2 linked regions of the Homo sapiens genome follow. The protein of the gene in region 2 purifies or fractionates together with the protein of the main gene of each other region. This does not show direct contact. Each region holds a gene or a part of one and is shown on either strand. Other genes may lie near its edges.

Region 1 (3,809 bases), on a different chromosome or scaffold from region 2:
AGCCTGGGCAACAGAGTGAGACTCTGTCTCCAAAAAAAAAAAAAAAAAAAAAATCCATTCCTTTAGGGAAGGAACTATGTCTCATACTTTTGGGTTTTTTTTTCCCCCTGAAGCTCCTGAGCTTCAATCTCATACTTTTGTCTTTGCCCACTATGGACTACACCCAGAGGGCTCAAGACACACTGCTGGCTGACCGGCAGGACAGCAGCAGTATAGGGTAGAGGTTCAGATTAGGTAGGAGGACAGTAGGGCCAGAGCTTGCATGGGTTGGGGAAAGCACATCCCAGGGGCCCTCTCTGCTACTCACAAGAAGGCCTCCTTCCTGCGGGACTCCTTCAGTGGCTCGTCCTCTTCGGCATCATGGCTGGAAGGTGTATGGGGTTCCGCTCTGGGGAAGAGAGAGAGAAAGTTAGGGCCAGGCTCAGGGAGGTGAATGGGGCTGAGAAGGACCAGACTGGTAGCCTCACCTCCTGTAAGTGTCAGAAGCGGCAGCGTAGTGGAGGGGAGAGCAGCCTTTACAGTCGGCCTCGTTGACACCTGCCCCAGCAGTCACCAATGTTACTGCACACTGGTAGCTACCGTTAGCAGCTGCATAGTGCAGTGGGGTCCTGGGGAAGAAGTGAAGGAGGGTGGGGAAGAGAATCAGAGACAGATACGAATGCAATCAGATGTGCAGCCAAATGCTGCTTTGTAACATTCTCCTTATTTAAGTCTCCAATCTAAACCCTTCCTCCCTCTACCATTTGTTTCTCTAATCAGATATTCCCTATGTTTACCCCTGCATATTAGCATACCTGCCAAATTTGTCCCTCCTCCTCAAGTCAGCTCCACTGCTCAACAGCAAATTAAGACATTCAACATTCCTAAAAGAAAGATGTGTTAAGAGAGTTACAGCCTCAAAGGGAAGCCACAGGCCCAGGGTGGGGCTAAGGAAGGATGGGACTAGCAAGCCCTTTCTGCTGTGACTGCTTTCATTGTGAGAGGGGGAATAGATCTGGGCAGGCAAGAATGAGGGGCCCAGACCTTTGCCCAGCTCCCTGCTCAAAGCATGGGAGAGAGAAAGAGAACTCACCCTCCGGAAGCAGCAGCATGAAGACAGGTACGGCCAAGGTTGTCAGGTGTATTGATGTCAAACCCAGCTGAAAGCACATGCTCATTGCTGAGTGAAGACACAATGCTGTACAACTGACCTGGAGGCACAGAACAGCCACAGGTCACATCTGAGAGTGTTCAGCAGGGAGGGAAAGGCCTTTGCTCTCCTATACACCTGCCAATCCCCAGCCCATCAGCACATACCTGAGGAAAGAAGCTTACGACAACAGTCAGAGAATCCAAAGAGAACAGCTAAGTGCAGGGGGAACATGTCATGGATGCCACGCCTAGAGAGAAGTTGAGGGACTCAGTCCTTGGGTCAAGGAGGGACCAAGTAAGACCTCTTCTGTGACCTACCACCACCCTAGAGTCAGGGTAGGAGGTTCTCCAAGGTGCCCTTTGGCAAGCTTATCTGTGCCTCCATGGTTGATGTGAGCAGTCTGTGCAGATCTGGGCAGCCCAGAAGTGGAGTCGGGGCCCTGACTCACCGGGCGGTATCTGCGCCATTGGTCATGAGGGTGCTGATGAGCAGCTCGTGTCCATATCGAGCAGCCACATGCAGTGGCGTGTTCCCAAATTTGTCGGCACAATCAATCTCGCTGCCTGTGAGGGGATGCACACACACAAGCTCAGGCAGACCTCAGGCTTAAGACCACTTTCGCGAGCTAGCCATGATTTGAGTGCCTACTATGTATGCATCAGGTGCCAGGCCCAGGATTCTACATATTTTATCCTGTTTCTAGGCCTTAGGAGACTGGGCAGGGCAGAGCAGGGCCATTTCCACAGGTCCCTTGGTCAGAGTTCCAAGGGCCTATCCTACTGGAAGAGGGCAGGAGAAGGAAGTTAGGAACCTCCCTAGATTCTAGAAATGAGTTCCTTGGGGGAGGAGGGGATGAGAGCACAAAGTCTCCCAGGTCCATACCATTCTGGATGAGGATCTGGGAGCGTGTGAAACGGCCATGGATTGCAGCCATGTGCAGAGGACTTTTCCCTTCTTTGCTCTGTGGAAACATGGTGGGTTTTTGTTTTTGTTTTTTTTTCCAGTGCAAAGCACAGAGAATGCCCTACCTCCCTTCCAAGGACATATCTCTAAGGACAAAAGGGTCATATGGCACCTTCTTAGCCCACTCTTTCCTGAGTCCCTGGCAAGGTCTGATTACCCTAGGAAGCAAGTGGATAATTCCCCAAGAGAGCTATCCAGATACAGTCAGGACCCCTAGATCCAAGTTTCGCTCCCCACTGGTCTAAGCCTTATCCCTTCAGGCACCTGGTAGTTGACGTCAGCCCCATTATTAACCAGTAGCTCCAAGCAGAGAGCGCCATTGGTGGAGACTGCAGCCACATGCAGTGGCGTGAAGCCCTTGTCATTCGGCTGGTTGACATTGGCTCCGGCATTCACCAGCTCAATAGCCACAGCATCCTGGCCCAGGTAGCAGGCGATGTGCAAAGCTGTGTTTCCAAAAGCATTGGGTTCATCGATCTGGATATTCAGGGGTGAGAGTAAGGTGGTATCAGTTTAAACAAAGTAGAAGCCAGCACATGTAGCCTCCAGATCCCAGAAATCCAACGACTGCCTCATTTCCTCTCGGGTTTATGACCCAAGGTACTAAGGTACTAAGGGCACTATGGCTAAGGTAAGCATTATTCAGACCCTCTCTACCACGTCCTTCCAACTTCCCAAAACTATACCAACATCCCAATACCTCATATCTCCGTAACAGACTATAATCTCCTACTTGCTGCCCATAGTTCCCAACCCCAGAGCTCAAAGCCCTGACCTCCGCTCCCATCCGAAGCAGGTACTTCACCACTTCAATCTGGCCACTGGCAGCAGCTGTATGGAGCAGCCCATAGCCCTTGCGGTCCTTGCAGCCGAGGTCTGCTCCCCGTGCCACCAGCAGTTTTAGGACCTCCAAGTGCCCTGAGAAAAGAGAAGACACTCTAAAGGAAGTAGAAGGTAAACTCTAAGACCCTACACTCCTCTCTTCAAAGGCTGCAACCCCACATCCCTGCCCTAGGAATCCTAAATGTCAAATTTCTGATTTTCCCGTGTATTCTCTCTCACCTAGAAAAGCTGCCCAATGCAGAGGCTGCCGCTCCTTTTTGTCACAGACATTCAGGCTGGCTCCCTTGTTGAGGAGCAGGTTCACCGTCTGCATCAGGATATGAAAGACACCTGTTCAGAGCTAGATTCGTGCCCTCAACCTACCTAAGAGCAGAGGCCTCATCTCCTGAAAAGGCTGAGGCAGCCTAATGCCTTTTTCCATGAGCAAAACAACCTGGAGGACTCGAGGGAACAGCAGAAGCAGGCACTAAGGAGGAGATACTGGAGAGATTTGGAACTTTAAGGGAAACAAGAGAGTCTCTTCAGGTGATCTGGTGGTTCTTAAACTCTTTTTTTTTTTTTTTTTGAGACAGTCTCGCTCTGTTACCCAGGCTGGAGTTCAGTGGCATGATTTCGGCTCATTGCAAGCTCCGCCTCCCGGGTTCACGCCATTCTCCTGCCTCAGTCTCCCGAGTAGCTGGGACTACAGGCGGCCGCCACCACACCCGGCTAATTTTTTGTATTTTTAGTAGAGACAGGGTTTCACCATGTTAGCCAGGATGATCTCGATCTCCTGATCTCATGATCCACCCGCCTTCGCCTCCCAAAGTGCTGGGATTACAGGCGTGAGCCGCCGTGCCCGGCCGGTTCTTAAACTCTTGTAAGTCTTTGC
Region 2 (4,609 bases):
CACTAAACGTTCTATAGCTTGCGTTATCTTTTGCTGTTTGCTCTGTCTTATATTTTTAACAATTACACTATCAGGAAAATACTGGCTTTGTAGTTTCTGCTTTTGATATTCCATCACTTGTTCAGCAGCACGGTCTGCCCTAAATTGCCTATAATGCTTCTCTCGTTGAGTTGGAGTCCCAAAACCAATACCTTCAAAACTTAAATAATGTCGGTGTTGGGGTGTTTTATATTTGAATTTTTCTACATCTTCTTCTTCTTCACCTTTACTCTGACTGGCATTTGTTTGTTCTATCACATGGGAGAGCACCTTTCTATAAGCTTTTTCAATCCTTATAAATGTTGCAGAATCAGCAGTATTAGAGCCACTGTCAGGATGATATTGCTTGGCAAGCTTATGAAAAGATTCCCTGACTTCATCTGCAGAGCATCCTTCCTCCACGTTCAGCAGTCTATAATATTCTCTGATCTTCTTTTTGGATTTATGGGTTGACATCATTCTATTTCTAATGATACCAAAATATGGAAGCATTTTCACTCGATTAGGAATCACTGTAGCCTTTATCAGGTGAGATCTTAAGATCTGAGCCATCATCACATACATTGTATTCATTATTGTACCCAGAGTTCTTCCTAGCAATGACCTATAAAACGACAACAAATATAGGTTGAACAAAGTTGTATTATCAGTTAATTTCTTATTTTCAGCAATAAGGTAAAAGATACAGCATGAATTTATAAGTACAACAAGGGGCAGTTCTTTTGAATGCTGCTGTCAACTTTTTCCTTTTTTTTTTTTTTTTGAGACAGAGTCTCGCTCTGTCACCCAGGCTGGAGTGCAGTGGTGCCTCCACCTCCAGAGCCACGCCTAGCTAATTTTTTTGTATTTTTAGTAGAGAAGGGGTTTCACCATATCGCCCAGGCTGGTCTGGATATCCTGACATGGTTATCTGCCCGCCTCGGCCTCCCAAAGTGCTGGGATTACAGGTATGAGCCACTGCGCTCAGCCTTTTTTTTTTTTTTTTTTGTCTGAGACAGGGTCTTGCTCTGTTGCCCATGCTGGAGTGCAGTGGCACAATCGTGGCTCACTGCAGCATCAACCTCCTGGGCTGAAGTGATCCTCCCACCTCTGCCTCTCATGTTGCTAGGACTACAGGCGTGCACCACCACACCTGGCTAATTTCTGTATTTTTGTAGGGATGGGGTTTCGTCATGTTGCCCACCCTGGTCTCCAACTCCTGAGCTCAAACGATCTGCCAGTTTCTGCCTCCCAAAGTGCTGGGATTATAGGGGTGAGCCACTGTGCCCAGCCACATTCTTTTTTCTTTTCTTTTCTTTTCTTTTTTTTTTTTTTGAGACAGAGTCTCACCCAGGCTGGAGTGCAATGGCATGATCTCGGCTCACTGCAACCTCTGCCTCCCGGGTTCAAGCGATTCTCCTGCCTCAGCCTCCCAAGTAGCTGGGATTACAGGTGCACGACACCACTCCTGGCTAATTTTTGTATTTTTAGTAGAGACGGCGTTTCACCGTGTTAGCCAGGATGGTCTCGATCTCCTGACCCTGTGATCTGCCCGCCTCGACCTCCCAAAGTGCTGGGATTACAGGCGTGAGCCACCGCACCCAGCCCCACCAGCTGCATTCTTATAGCTATATTTCACTGATGTGGGCAGAAAAGTGGAAGCTGATGAAGTTTAGTGTTAACATATTGTGGGGCCAGGCACGGTGGCACACGCCTGTAATCCCAGTACTTTAGGAGGCCGAGGTGGGTGGATCACCTGAGGTCAGGAGTTCGAGATCAGCCTGGCTAACATGGCAAAACCCTGTCTCTACTAAAAATACAAAAATTAACTGGAGGTTGCAGTCCCAGCTACTCGGGAGGCTGAGGCAAGAGAATCGCTTGAACCCGGGAGGTGGAGGTTGCAGTGAACCGAGATCGTGCCACTGCACTCCAGCCTGGGCAACAGAGTGAGACTCTGTCTCAAAAAAATATAGATAGATAGAATCTGGATTCTACCCCTCACTAACTAACCGTATATTTTACAAGTGGAAAGTTCTTAGAGATCATCTAATCCAATCTTCTCATTTAATGAGAAAACGTAGGTCCGGAAGGTTAAGCAATTTAACCAAGTCCCATAACAAGGTGTAAGCAAAATGGTTAGGGGTGGGCACAGTAAAAAAGGAGGCTTGCTTAACTGTCTATACCTCCAGCCGATTATAAACTGCACGAGAGTCTGCATCATCTCAAGAAGTCTTCTCATAAGACGACTTATGGACAAGGTACGTACCTGGTCTGATACTGGATTGAATAGAATCAAGTGTCCAAAAGACTTTAAGCTCCACAGCTCGCTAGGAAGGAGCTATCTGCCAGAGGCCAGAAAAACCATGATGAATTGTGAGGCCTCCCAACACGTTTGCTGCTATTGCAATAACATGGTCTCGAAGAGGAGGAAGACTTGTACACTGACAATGGCCAAAAAATACTGGAAGTGGCTTAATTGGAATTGGGATATATAAACGCTAAAACGGAGCTCCTGAGACCCCCTATTTTCTAGGCAATCGGTGCCAACGGTCTGGGAGCCGGCTGCGAAGGTGGTTATCATGGCAAGGGAGGTCGGTCCTGCCCCGCCCCCTCCTCACCTGCGCAGACCTGGGGTAGGGGTTCCGCGGCTCCCGCCCCCCTGCCGCGCCTCTGCGCATGCGTGCGCGGTCCGCCCTTCACTGCGGGTGTCCCTCCCACCGCCTCCAGCTGGTGCCTCCGCCGGGCTAGACCATTTGCCACTTTACACTGAGGGGCTCGGGGGTACGGAAGGCAGAATCGTACCTGATTGGGACAGGTGACCTTACCAGGAAAACGGACAATCTTCCGCCAAACGAACTTTACCCCGGAGGACCCAGGCAGGGCACCTCGGGAGCCTTCGTCCCGACCGGGGACCACCAGCTCCACCTCCGTCCCCGCCCCGAGCGGAGGTGGTCCGGCCGATTGGGATTGTGGGAGATGTAGTTCGCTAGAAGGGGCGATGTGCGCCTGCGCCTCTCGGGAGGGACTTAGGGGGCGTCGAAAATGATGTAAAGACCGAGTTGGCGGCGTGGGGAGTTGTGGCTCGGAGGGCGAGGGTAACTTTCTGGGGGCAGGGGAAGGCAAGGCTGTTTCCCCGGAACGGGACCGGAACAGGTTTATTCGGGGTCACAGAAGGAGTCACCTGCGCAGATACATGAGGCTTAAAACCTGCCCTTTTATTAATTCAAGTACTGTTGAGGGGCTGGCGACAGGCCAGAGGACAAAATCAAAATAGGGATCTTCTGGCTTGGAGTTCAACCACTGACGTGGGGACTGAGCATTTCCCCTCTCTGTACAGGAAGCAAGTTTTTTAACAAGGAAAAAGAAAAAGGATAAAAAGAAAAAGGCAGAGGCTTGGGAGTTTTCAGATCTGGGTTGAAAATCCTGTTTCTTCTGCTTGCACCTTAGGCAAGATACCTGCAAAATGAGAGTTGCAATAAATAGTAAACTATAGTAAATAGTATGCCATTGTGCTAAGTGCTTTATGTATATTCTCATTTACTTTTTTTTTTTTTTTTTTGAGACAGAGTCTCGCTCTGTCGCCCAGGCTGGAGTGTGGTGGCGCGATCTCGGCTCGCTGCAACCTCCACCTCCCGGGTTTAAGCTATTCTCCTGCCTCAGCCTCCCGAGTAGCTGGAATTACAGGCGCGCACCACCATGCCCAGCTAATTTTTTTGTATTTTTAGTGGAGACCAGGTTTCACCATGTTGGCCAGGCTGGTCTCGAACCCCTGAGCTAAGGTGATCTGCCTGCCTCGGCCTTTCAAAGTGCTGGGATTACAGGCATTCATTTAATCTTTACAACAGCCCTCTGAGATAAATGCTGTTATTTTCCCTATTTTACATATAATGAAATAATAATTGTATCAACTTCATTGACTTTTTTAGGGGGAGAATTACACAATGTATGTAAACCACTTGGCACTGTGCCTCGCACATTAAGCAATATTTTTTGTTATGACTGTGTCTCCTAAAAGGAGCCAGAAATAGGTATTAGCCTCCTCAGCTTCTACATCATAAACATTAGAATCATTTATTGCCATCTATGTAGGAACACAGAAAAAGATACAGTATAAACTCTGATTCTGAGGGCTTTAGTTATAAGCAAACAATCAACAAAATAACTCATGTGAAAGAAAATAGGATTTCTGGCCGGGCGCGGTGCTCACGCCTGTAATCCCAGCACTTTGGGAGGCCGAGGCGGGCGGATCACGAGGTCAGGAGATCGAGACCATCCTGGCTAACACGGTGAAACCCCGTCTCTACTAAAAATACAAAAAATTAGCCAGGTGTGGTGGCGGGCGCCTGTAGTCCCACCTGCTCGGGAGTCTGAGGCAGGAGAATGGCGTGAACCCGGGAGGCGGAGCTTGCAGTGAGCCTAGATCGTGCCACTGCACTCCAGCCTGGGCGACAGAGCCAGACTCCGTCTAAAAAAAAAAAGACCTGGCCACTAAAAAATTTTTAAAAAGAAAAATAAGGCCAGACGCAGTGCTCACGCCTGTAATCTCAGCACTTTGGGAGGCTGAGGCAGGTGGATAACCTGAGGTCGGGAG

What was found.
Region 1: the proteins of DNAJC28 (region 2) and ANKRD52 purify together in Homo sapiens (affinity purification with mass spectrometry, with the first as the bait; one large-scale study listed by BioGRID). This does not show direct contact.

What each region holds. Positions count from the first base shown.
Region 1 is NC_000012.12:56,251,708-56,255,516, forward strand, and holds part of ANKRD52 (serine/threonine-protein phosphatase 6 regulatory ankyrin repeat subunit C), read right to left. Parts: intron 3,246-3,809; coding exon 3,158-3,245; intron 3,014-3,157; coding exon 2,871-3,013; intron 2,573-2,870; coding exon 2,360-2,572; intron 2,094-2,359; coding exon 2,015-2,093; intron 1,696-2,014; coding exon 1,581-1,695; intron 1,380-1,580; coding exon 1,297-1,379; intron 1,191-1,296; coding exon 1,073-1,190; intron 864-1,072; coding exon 795-863; intron 609-794; coding exon 468-608; intron 389-467; coding exon 308-388; intron 1-307. UniProt on the Homo sapiens protein: Putative regulatory subunit of protein phosphatase 6 (PP6) that may be involved in the recognition of phosphoprotein substrates.
Region 2 is NC_000021.9:33,488,782-33,493,390, forward strand, and holds the start of DNAJC28 (dnaJ homolog subfamily C member 28), read right to left. Parts: upstream 2,936-4,609; 5' UTR 2,821-2,935; intron 2,621-2,820; exon of another isoform or gene 2,285-2,620; intron 644-2,284; 5' UTR 613-643; coding exon 1-612.